Linked DNA regions of Homo sapiens. The protein of the gene in region 1 interacts with the protein of each later gene in a biochemical or structural test. Each region holds a gene or a part of one and is shown on either strand. Other genes may lie near its edges.

Region 1 (3,205 bases):
GAACTGGAGCCTAGAACCTGAGCCCTGGATGAAAGTCGAGGGAGTGTGGCCAGGTCTCAATTTGGAAGCCCAGAGTCTAAGATGTCTCTGCCCTTCCCCCTGTAGGGCTACAGACTTCCAAAAGTCAAGGCTCCCTTCTCTACTGATTTGACCCCACCCCAGTTTCGCCATCAAGATTTATCTGCTTCTGGACAGTTGTTAGGGAGCGCCATGTTCACCAGGCCTTCGGTCTGTTGCCCTGATCCTTTCCCCAACCCCCACCAGGTATCCTAAGAAGCTGGTGCAGACATACTCAGTGTTTCCCAACCAGGACGAGATGAGCGATGTGGTGGTCCAGCCTTACAATTCACTCCTCACACTCAAGAGGCTGACGCAGAATGCAGACTGTGTGGTGAGTCCTGGATTCTACCTCTCCCAACTCTCAACACCCCATACCCACTCGAGTCTATTAAATCATTTTCATGTATTTAAAAAAAATCCATTTTAGCCAGGTGCAGTGGCTCATGACTGTAATCCCATCACTTTGGGAGGCCAAGGTCGTTGGATCGTTTGAGTTTAGGAGTTCGAGACCAGCCTGGGCAACATGGCGAAACCCCATCTCTACTAAAAATACAAAAATTAGTCGGGAGTGGTGATATGTGCAGAAGGATCACTTGTGCCTCAGAGGCAGGGGCTGCAGTGAGCTGAGATCATGTCACTGACTGCACTCCAGCCGGGGTGACAAAGTGAAACCCTGTCTCAAAAAACAAGAACAAAAAAAAAAACTGTTTAAATAATTAAGATGAAAAGAAAAATTTAAAAATCCATTTTGAGCCCTCCTTTGCCCTAGGTCAGTGCAAATCTCTTTCCAGTGAGTCTTTCTGGCCATGAAGCTCAAAGGAAATTAAGCTTCAGAGCCTAGGGTCAGGCAGAGCTCCTGTTTTTCTTATCCCCATTGATCTGTGATCCTCTTCTGTCCCCCCAGGTGGTGCTGGACAACACAGCCCTGAACCGGATTGCCACAGACCGCCTGCACATCCAGAACCCATCCTTCTCCCAGATCAACCAGCTGGTGGGCCCCCACTCCTGGACTCCTTTGGACTTGAAGCCCTCCTTGTTGGAGGGTCATTTGGGGAAGGGAGGTCCCACCCAGGCTGAGGCCCATAACATGGCACGCCTGTCCCCAGGTGTCTACCATCATGTCAGCCAGCACCACCACCCTGCGCTACCCTGGCTACATGAACAATGACCTCATCGGCCTCATCGCCTCGCTCATTCCCACCCCACGGCTCCACTTCCTCATGACCGGCTACACCCCTCTCACTACGGACCAGTCAGTAAGAGCAGCCTTCAGTGTCCCAGGCCAGGCCGGCCCTGGGCCCAACAGGCCCTGTCCTAGCCTTTCTCTCTTCCCCACTGCCCCAGGAGCTACCCTTTGTGGACCCCAAGGCGCGGCGCTCAGGGACTGGCACAGAGTGGGCGACTTTCTTGCTGACTTGCTCTCCACCCTCCCTCTGCCTTTGGCTTCTGCCAAAGAGAAGCCAAAGGGGGACTGTGCCCTGAGCGCTGGCCGGGTCCCTGTCTCACTGTCCTATCAGGTGGCCAGCGTGAGGAAGACCACGGTCCTGGATGTCATGAGGCGGCTGCTGCAGCCCAAGAACGTGATGGTGTCCACAGGCCGAGACCGCCAGACCAACCACTGCTACATCGCCATCCTCAACATCATCCAGGGAGAGGTGGACCCCACCCAGGTAGGGGAGGCCCCTTCATCCCACACCCTGGACCTGCAGGGGTAGAGGAGAGGCCACCTCCACTGCTCCTATGCCCACCCCAGGTCCACAAGAGCTTGCAGAGGATCCGGGAACGCAAGTTGGCCAACTTCATCCCGTGGGGCCCCGCCAGCATCCAGGTGGCCCTGTCGAGGAAGTCTCCCTACCTGCCCTCGGCCCACCGGGTCAGCGGGCTCATGATGGCCAACCACACCAGCATCTCCTCGGTGAGTCTCAAAGTTTGCACCTTTTTTCCCTGAATCAGTTTCCTGACTATACCTCACCTCTCTGCATCTGCTGGCCCTGCTTCTAGCTTTTTTGCTGTGGGCATAGCCCAGCCTTGGTTCCCCAGCTTTCTGGGCCACGTTATTCTTTGAAGTTCTTTGTAACCCCTGTTTTCTGCACACCCCAAGCTCTTCGAGAGAACCTGTCGCCAGTATGACAAGCTGCGTAAGCGGGAGGCCTTCCTGGAGCAGTTCCGCAAGGAGGACATGTTCAAGGACAACTTTGATGAGATGGACACATCCAGGGAGATTGTGCAGCAGCTCATCGATGAGTACCATGCGGCCACACGGCCAGACTACATCTCCTGGGGCACCCAGGAGCAGTGAGTCCCCCAGGACAGGGACCCTCATCTGCCTTACTGGTTGGCCCAAGCCCTGCCTGACTGACCACCCCCTCAGAGCACAGATCAGGGACCTCACGCATCTCTTTCTCATATACATGGACTCTCTGTTGGCCTGCAAACACATTTACTTCTCCTCTTATGAGACTATTTATCTTTAATAAAGCACTGGATATAAATCAAGTCACTGCTCCCTTTAAAGCCTTTGGGTTCTGGAGATGCGGTGGGGATGCCTGTTCTTTCTCCATCATTCTGACAGGGTCCTCACCCACTTCCAGCATCTTCAATTCTGAACCAACAGCTTCCCCTAGGTTTTTCCTCTGCCTAGTTTTGGAGAACGCTGGTGGGGTTTGACCCACCTGAAATTCCTTTCCAGGGTAAAAAGGCCCAGAGATATTACTTTGTTCTCTGTCTGACCCTTTCTGGGTCCCCGTTCCCTCCCACCCTCACTGTATCAGGTGAATATTCCACCAGCCTCATGTTTCCACATCAGAGTGTCTGATTAATCACAACCTGAGGCCCAAGGCCACCACCACTGCCACTAGGCCATGAACAAGCAATGGAGTCCAACCCAATACCTTTAAGCTTCTAGCAAGCAGTCCAGGAGAGCCGCTCGTTTCAGGCAGTTGGAGTCTAGCAGCATCAAGTCAGCGACCAAATCTAAAACCTAGACTGTAAGCAGGATCATAAGTGGTTCCATAGCTAAGGCACCGTAATTCTCTTCTCTAGTGGTTGCCAGTAATTTAAATGGCCAGTGCCTTCTACTTCTGGTGGAAGATTGCAGGGAGGTAGTAAATACATAGGGGCCTAAGTCTTCAGGATTGTTTTTTTT
Region 2 (3,649 bases), on another chromosome or scaffold:
AAAAGAAAAGCCAATCACAGATACTTAACGTGTTATTGCATAACATTTTGGAAATGACAAAATTTAGAAATGGAGGATAGATGAAAAGTTACCAGGGTGTAGGGATGGGGCAGGGTGTGTGGTTATAAAAGGCCCCAGGAGGTAGCCTTCTGCGGGAACAGTCGGGGTTTCGGCCGAGGTCTAGATGTGCACACCCAGATGAGTTACGAGTAAACTGGGCCATGTGAAAAAGACGGGTGCGCTGCCATGTCAGTACCCCAGCTGAGACACTGTTGTGTAGTTTCGCAAACCGTTGCCATTGGAGGAAACTGTGGAAATAAAGACACTGGGATTGCTTTGCTATTTTTACTATTATGCAAATCTGTCATTATCTGAATAAAGATTTCCGTTAAATAAAAAAGATAAAGCTTACATGCTGCTTTATGGAATAATCAGACCTGAAGTCATGTATCAGTCCAGCTGTGGAAAGCCAGCACTCACAGCACCCCTCCCCACAAGGTCTCGTACAATGATAGAATTGGAACTTATAACTGAGTCACACTAAATTGGCCATAAAGCTACTGAAGATTTAGGTTTTTTGCCAGTGAGACAGTCTTCAGGGGATGGGAATGTGTGCTAAAAACTAGGAAAAGTTCACCTTTGCAGTTTCCAGTCTGGGTAATAAAAATCAGTGAGTGACCATCACCCCTGAGTGTCAGCAATAAGTAGTTATACTGTAACAAAATAGTAGTTTATATTCAACTCCACATGCCGTTATCAAAATAAAGCTGGGCCTTGTAGTGTATGTGCATTATTTCAAAATGCAGTTAGCACCAAAGGGTGTAGAGTAAGAGGTAAGTCCCTCCCACACCTGCTAGCCACACACCGCCCCTCTCTGGGAGAGTCTGTGCCCTTTCTGTTGGCATCTTTTTTTTTTTTTTTTTTTTTGAGGTGGAGTCTCACTCTGTCATCCAGGCTGGAGTGTAGTGGCGTGATCTCAGCTCACTGCAACCTCTGCCTCCTGGGTTCAAGCAGTTCCCTGCCTCAGCCTCCTGAGTAGCTGGGATTACAGGCTCCCGCCACCACACCTGGCCAATTTTTGTATTTTTAGTAGAGATGGGGTTTCACCATATTGTCCAAGCTGGTCTTGGAACTCCAGACCTTGTGATCCACCCGCCTTAGCCTCCCAAAGTGCTGGGATTACAAGCGTGAGCCACTGCGCCCAGCCTTCTCTTGGCATCTTTCCACCAGCCAGCTACCTCGCGTGTGTGTGTGATGTGTGAGTGCACATGTGCATTCTATTGAGACGAATTTTTTAAATCCAATCATTGTATTCAGTTCCTCTTCGGCATATATAGTTTATATCATCAAATGTTAACTGTTTATTAGTGCCCTACACAGACTTTTAGGAATGTTTAATATAACAGTTTTAAATTAAAAATACAAACTAGGCTAGGCACAGTGGCTCACGCTTGTAATCCCACCACTTTGGGAGGCCAAGGCAGGCAGATCATGAAGTCAAGAGATCAAGACCATCCTGGCCAACATGGTGAAACCCCGTCTCTAGCTGGGCGTGGTGGTGTGCACCTGTAGTCCCAGCTACATGGGAGGCGGAGGTTGCAGTGAGCCGAGATCACGCCACTGCACTCCAGCCTGGTGACAAAGCGAGAGTCCATCTCAAAACAAAAAAAAAAAAGTACAAACTAAAAAAGTGAGCTTTTCATGGTTAGAAGTGATGGAGAAGGAAAACTAGCCAAGAAGTCCCAAGAGGTATATTGAATTAATAGGAATTAACTTGTCTTGGAGGAACTTACACATAAACATTCTTTAAAAAGCAACGGACATTTTCCAGTCGTTTGTAAGTTCTCTCAGAAACAGAATCGTAAGACCAATGCATTAATTGTGTATTTAATTGTATATTCACACCAAGCACAGGGGCTCATGCCTGTAAACCCAGCACTTTGGGAAATCACAGTGGGAGGATTGCTTGAGGCCAGGAGTTCGAGACCAGCCTGGGCAACATGACCCCGTCTCTACAAAACTTTAAAAAGATGGGCCAGATGTGGTGGCCTGAGCCTGTAGCACCAGCTACTCAGGAGGCTGAGGTGGGAGGATTGCTTGAGCTTGGGAGGTTGAGGCTGCAGTGAACCGTGATTGCACCACCGCACTCCAGCCTCGGCCGCAGAGTGAGGGCCTGCCTCAAAAAAAAGTGTATTCACTTAATTTTTGAAATGTGAATTCAATTTGTGAAACTTTTAAAGTTATTGAGTATTTACTACTAAGAGTAATTTATGTTAAACTATCCTGATTATATGATAGCAGGAGAAGATACTGTTTGCTATTGTAAACATGTTGCTGAGTTGGTATTGATTTGCTTTTGTAGACTTTTGGAACAGCGATCGTAATCAATCCTGAGAAAGACAAAGACATGGTCCAAGACCTGTTGGACTTCAAGGACAAGGTGGACCACGTGATCGAGGTCTGCTTCCAGAAGAATGAGCGGTTCGTCAACCTGATGAAGGAGTCCTTTGAGACGTTCATCAACAAGAGACCCAACAAGCCTGCAGAACTGATCGGTAGAAAAATATTTGTTTTTTTTGTTTGTTTGTTTTTGAGACAGTCTCACCCATTTCTAGACAATTTTTTAATATGGGAAAATAAGGCAAAATCAACCAAAATGTTCAAGCTGCTCAAGGGGTGTGTGGAAAGCGTTTTTATCAAGTCTTATTAGGACACAAATTTAAAAACCGACACACCTGCATGCATGGGTGGAGGAGGGCATTTCCATAAGGGAAGATGAGGTAAGAATTTAGAAAAGAAATGATGCTTGACTTCGCCAAAGAAGGGAGGGGTGATCACCATCTTTGTATCCTCTAATCCATATTAAAATAGGATAAAACCAGATGAGATCTCAAATGATAATACTATTTTTAAGCTGTACAATTTTTTCACAATAATATCAAAATATATTTCAGAATTCATAGGCTTTCTCTAGTCAGTAAAATTTTTTTTTTAATTCGAAGGAGAAAGGGGGCAAAGAGAGCTGAAATACGACGATACTAGATTGACTGTTGATTACTGCTGAAGATGTAAGATGGAACATGGAGCTCATTGTGCAATTGTCTGCTTTTCTGTGTGTTCAGAATATTCCATTACAAAATGTTTAAAAGAAAAAAACTAACAAAAACAGCAACAGAAGGAATTCAGGAGGCAGTTTACTTTGGCTTTTGTTCCTCTGTATCATTTGTGGTTTCTCTAAAGCAAAGGGATGTTGAGCTCTTGGGAGTTTGGGCTTCTGGAAGTCTTGGGTTCTCCCATCACATGGGGACTTTGGTCCTCCCTCCCAAGCCACCTGACGATGGCTTGTGCAGCCTCAGAAACAGGAAGCCCGAGTAGAAATGCTTTCACCCTGCGTTGCCACCTTGGATGCTCTGAGAAAGTCTTTCTCTTTGAGAATGTCTCCTCTGCATTCATGACACCAGATCCTAGAAATAGGCACTCCAGCGTCCGGGGCAGTCACGTCCTGAAACCTGAGCATGTATTTGCTGAAGTCATTTTATTTTGAAATTCAGAGATTGCATTTAAAGATAAGAAAGATATTTAAACCTGCTTTAAACATTCAGTCCTGGCTTCATTAAAATTTTGGCAAGTATTTACTCTCACTTGACTT
Region 3 (3,649 bases), on another chromosome or scaffold:
CGCAGTGATCTGCGGTCTGAAGGAGAGCAGGAAAGGGGGCATGTGTGACTGAGTCTCAGCAGTGTCCAGGTGGACAGTTTGGCTTGGGCATCTGGGGGACATGCTGGTGCCATCTGAGCCTAGGAAGAGCAAGTTCCAGTCCTGTGGAGTCACCACAAATTGGCTTGTCACTCCTTGTTCAGGAAACTTTTGACGCTGGGCTGCAGGCCTTCCAGCAGGAAGGCATTGCCAACATCACTGCCCTCAAAGATCAGCTTCTCGCCGCCAAACACGTTCAGTCCAAGGCCATCGAGGCCCGGCACGCCTCCCTCATGAAGAGGTGGAGCCAGCTTCTGGCCAACTCAGCCGCCCGCAAGAAGAAGCTTCTGGAGGCTCAGAGTCACTTCCGCAAGGTGAGGATGGGGCCACGTGAAGCTTAGCTGGCCCACAGCTCAAGGAAGGACGCCCACCTTCTGTCTGCCCAGCTCTGCCACTCCCCCTTGAGGAAGCTGTGAGCTCAGTGCAGAGCTTTCAAACATGGGTGTGGCTGGCATCAATTAAAACCAGGGCAAATGAGAGGGCCCTGTGAGATCGCCATTCAGAAGCACGCAGGACAGACTAGAGACAAGGGCAAAGGGTAGGAAGGGGAAAAAAGGCTGGTGAAGACTTGAAGGGGGAGCAGGAGACAGGAGCAGAGGGGAGCTAAGCTCCCAGCAGGCTGTGTGCGCCTCTGATTCCCAGGAACCACCCCGCACCCCACCTCCTGCACTGCGTCGGCACGTCCAGCCCTGGCGACTCCGCCAACTCAGTCTCTTCTGCTTCCAGGTGGAGGACCTCTTCCTGACCTTCGCCAAAAAGGCTTCTGCCTTCAACAGCTGGTTTGAAAATGCAGAGGAGGACTTAACAGACCCCGTGCGCTGCAACTCCTTGGAAGAAATCAAAGCTTTGCGCGAGGCCCACGACGCCTTCCGCTCCTCCCTCAGCTCTGCCCAGGCTGACTTCAACCAGCTGGCCGAGCTGGACCGCCAGATCAAGAGCTTCCGCGTAGCCTCCAACCCCTACACCTGGTTTACCATGGAGGCCCTGGAGGAGACCTGGAGGAACCTACAGAAAATCATCAAGGTACACCTCCCGCTGCCCTCAGGAGCTGCTCGGCCTCCCAGAGCCCTCTCTGGGCCCTGCTCAGAGCCCACACTTAACTGAGTCACGACAAGACGAGCAGGATGGAGGAGCATGGTTTCATCAGAAGTTTCATTTCTTTTTGTGTTCTTGAGGCAGGGTCTCTGTCACCCAGGCTTCAGTGCAGTGGTGCTACCATGGCTCCCTGTAGCCTCAACCTCCCAGGCTCAGGTGATCCTCTTGCCTGAGCCTCTTGAATAACTGGGACTACAAGCACGTGCCACCACGCCTGGCTAATTATTTTAATTTTTGTAGACAGGGTGTTGCTATGTTGCCCAGGCTGGTCTTCAACTCCTGGCCTCAAGCAGTCCTCCTGCCCAGGCCTCCCAAAGTGCTGGGATTACAGGTGTGAGCCACTGTACCCAGCCAGAAGTTTCCATTTCTGACAGTCCAGCAACTCCCTGCTTGACTGACCAGTCGCTTCCCTCCAGGTCCGCCTCTTCCTTGAAGCCCCTGGGGGGTGGGAACAGAGAAAGAACTACCAAGTGCTCTGAGCCGGCCTCATGTCTCCCAGCCTCCTCCTCTCATCTTTGGGGAGGTTCCTTGTGGGGAGGCCACCACCACCCTGAGCCCATCTGTGAAGGAGGGGCTGGTGTCACTGCCACAGCAGCGCACAGCATCTGCCCCCCTTTGGCCCTCAGGAGAGGGAGCTGGAGCTGCAGAAGGAACAGCGGCGGCAGGAGGAGAACGACAAGCTGCGCCAGGAGTTTGCCCAGCACGCCAACGCCTTCCACCAGTGGATCCAAGAGACCAGGTGCCAGCCCGCTGGGGCCGGGGAGCAGCAGCATGTCCCTGCTGTACTTAAGCCCTGGGGAGCTTCCAGCCCCAAGGAGGTGGTGGTGCTTTGTGTAAAACCAGAGGCAGCCTGGGAATAAAGCTGGGCTGGCAACGCCTGGTCGGGCTCTGGAGCCGGGAGTGGGGGCATAGGTGGAGCAGCCTCTCAGTGCTGCATGTCCCAGACATCAAGTTGTTAGAGATCCCGGATTGAGTGGGACCATGCAGGGCGCGTGGTCAGCCCCAGCCATGACTTGGTGACAGACGATGCAGGGTCTGTGCGTTGGGTACTGATGTTCTTGCTTTTGTTTTCCTTTCTTTCTTGTGTCTTCTCTCTGTCCCCCCGATTGCTGCTGTTGTCCGGACACCACCTTGTCTCCCGGCTGCTTGGATCTGCTCTCCACAGGACATACCTCCTCGATGGGTTAATATTGTTTTCTTCCTTCTCTGGGCTTGTCATGTGGGGGTCTCGTGCGCTTGCCCCTCGTGGCCTGGCTTGTGGAGGATCCCGGGATGGGCCTTCCTGCCCAGGGCGGGCTGCACTTCCCCTCCCACCCTTCTCGTCACCTGATGAGGAGTGTGTGCCTTGCCCCATAGCCCATGGTCCCTGGTCCCCGATAGAGCCTTCAAGCCAGGGGGAGCCGTCCTTGCCTCACTGGGCGATTCCAAGGGCTCACTTTGGGTAGGGAAGGTGATGAAGCACGAAGGCCAGAGCTGGAGTCCAGAGGCCCTAAGAACCCCCGTGCCTGTCCAGCCACCGGGCTCTGTTGGGCTCTCACCTCTGCTTCCCCAGCGAGTCCAACAGTGGTCAGTGGGCATGAAGCAGATGGCAGTGCTGGGGGCTCAGGCAGGGTACAGTAAGTCCACAGCTGAGAAGGGCTGGGCACTGACACCCCCTAAGTAGCTGAGGCTGCCACTTTACTTTCCTGGGGTCAGGGAGGGTAACAAGACTGTCCGCCCTAATAGAAGGCAAAAATGCACCCGTTATGTGATAGACAGGACGTGGGAGGAGCCCCAGGGAGGAGCAGGGCTGGGCTGTCCCGCCCAGTCCCGGCAGGGACTTCTCTGCTTGGCCTGGGGCCTCTGCCTGGCCGGGTCACCTTTGTAATCTGCCAAGCCTGCTGTGAAAGCCAGGGCTGCTGGGACTGGAGTGGCTTGGCCTGCACTCCTGAGGCTCTGCACCCAGGCACATCAAGCCTGTATAGGCGGCCAGGGGAGAAATAGACCCATCCAGCCGGGCCACACATTCTGATGGCAGAGCAGCTGGGGACGTAGGGATCGCAGTTTCCGGCCTGTGCCCGTAGGACACCCTGGCCACCTGACTCCCCTCCCTGCCCCATGCCTGTGTCTGCTGGTCTTGCTCTTGTCTCCGTGAGGTGCCACGCTCCCCTCACCTTATGGCTCCTCCCAAGCCCTGCCCATCTTGCCCATTCCTAGTGTGAGCTGCCTGGGGTGAACCACTGGGCCTGCTGCCTCCAGGTACCCGCCGGGCACCAGGTTGCCCTTGCCTGCGCCCTGCCAGCTTGGGCTTTGTGTGTGTCTGTTGCAGTGTGCTCTTGCCTCCCCTCCCTTTGGTGTATTCATTTGGTTTCTTTTCTTTGAATAGCATAGCATATCGTCGGGTCATTCGTGTCTATCAGTATGAAGTTGGGGATGATCTGTCTGGAAGGTTTTTCTCCTTATTTCTCTTCTTACCTCACTGTGGCTTTACTGATGC

What was found.
Region 2: of the proteins of TUBG1 (region 1) and CUL4A, one has a biochemical effect on the other in vitro, tested with the Homo sapiens proteins (one study listed by BioGRID).
Region 3: the proteins of TUBG1 (region 1) and SPTAN1 form a complex in vitro, tested with the Homo sapiens proteins (one study listed by BioGRID).

What each region holds. Positions count from the first base shown.
Region 1 is NC_000017.11:42,612,683-42,615,887, forward strand, and holds the end of TUBG1 (tubulin gamma-1 chain), read left to right. Parts: intron 1-264; coding exon 265-391; intron 392-964; coding exon 965-1,051; intron 1,052-1,166; coding exon 1,167-1,316; intron 1,317-1,577; coding exon 1,578-1,730; intron 1,731-1,813; coding exon 1,814-1,975; intron 1,976-2,161; coding exon 2,162-2,359; 3' UTR 2,360-2,556; downstream 2,557-3,205. UniProt on the Homo sapiens protein: Tubulin is the major constituent of microtubules, protein filaments consisting of alpha- and beta-tubulin heterodimers. Gamma-tubulin is a key component of the gamma-tubulin ring complex (gTuRC) which mediates microtubule nucleation.
Region 2 is NC_000013.11:113,240,606-113,244,254, forward strand, and holds part of CUL4A (cullin-4A), read left to right. Parts: intron 1-2,362; coding exon 2,363-2,555; intron 2,556-3,649. UniProt on the Homo sapiens protein: Core component of multiple cullin-RING-based E3 ubiquitin-protein ligase complexes which mediate the ubiquitination of target proteins. As a scaffold protein may contribute to catalysis through positioning of the substrate and the ubiquitin-conjugating enzyme.
Region 3 is NC_000009.12:128,625,587-128,629,235, forward strand, and holds part of SPTAN1 (spectrin alpha chain, non-erythrocytic 1), read left to right. Parts: intron 1-182; coding exon 183-392; intron 393-804; coding exon 805-1,101; intron 1,102-1,417; coding exon of another isoform or gene 1,418-1,504; intron 1,505-1,799; coding exon 1,800-1,912; intron 1,913-2,338; coding exon 2,339-2,356; intron 2,357-3,538; coding exon of another isoform or gene 3,539-3,601; intron 3,602-3,649. UniProt on the Homo sapiens protein: Fodrin, which seems to be involved in secretion, interacts with calmodulin in a calcium-dependent manner and is thus candidate for the calcium-dependent movement of the cytoskeleton at the membrane.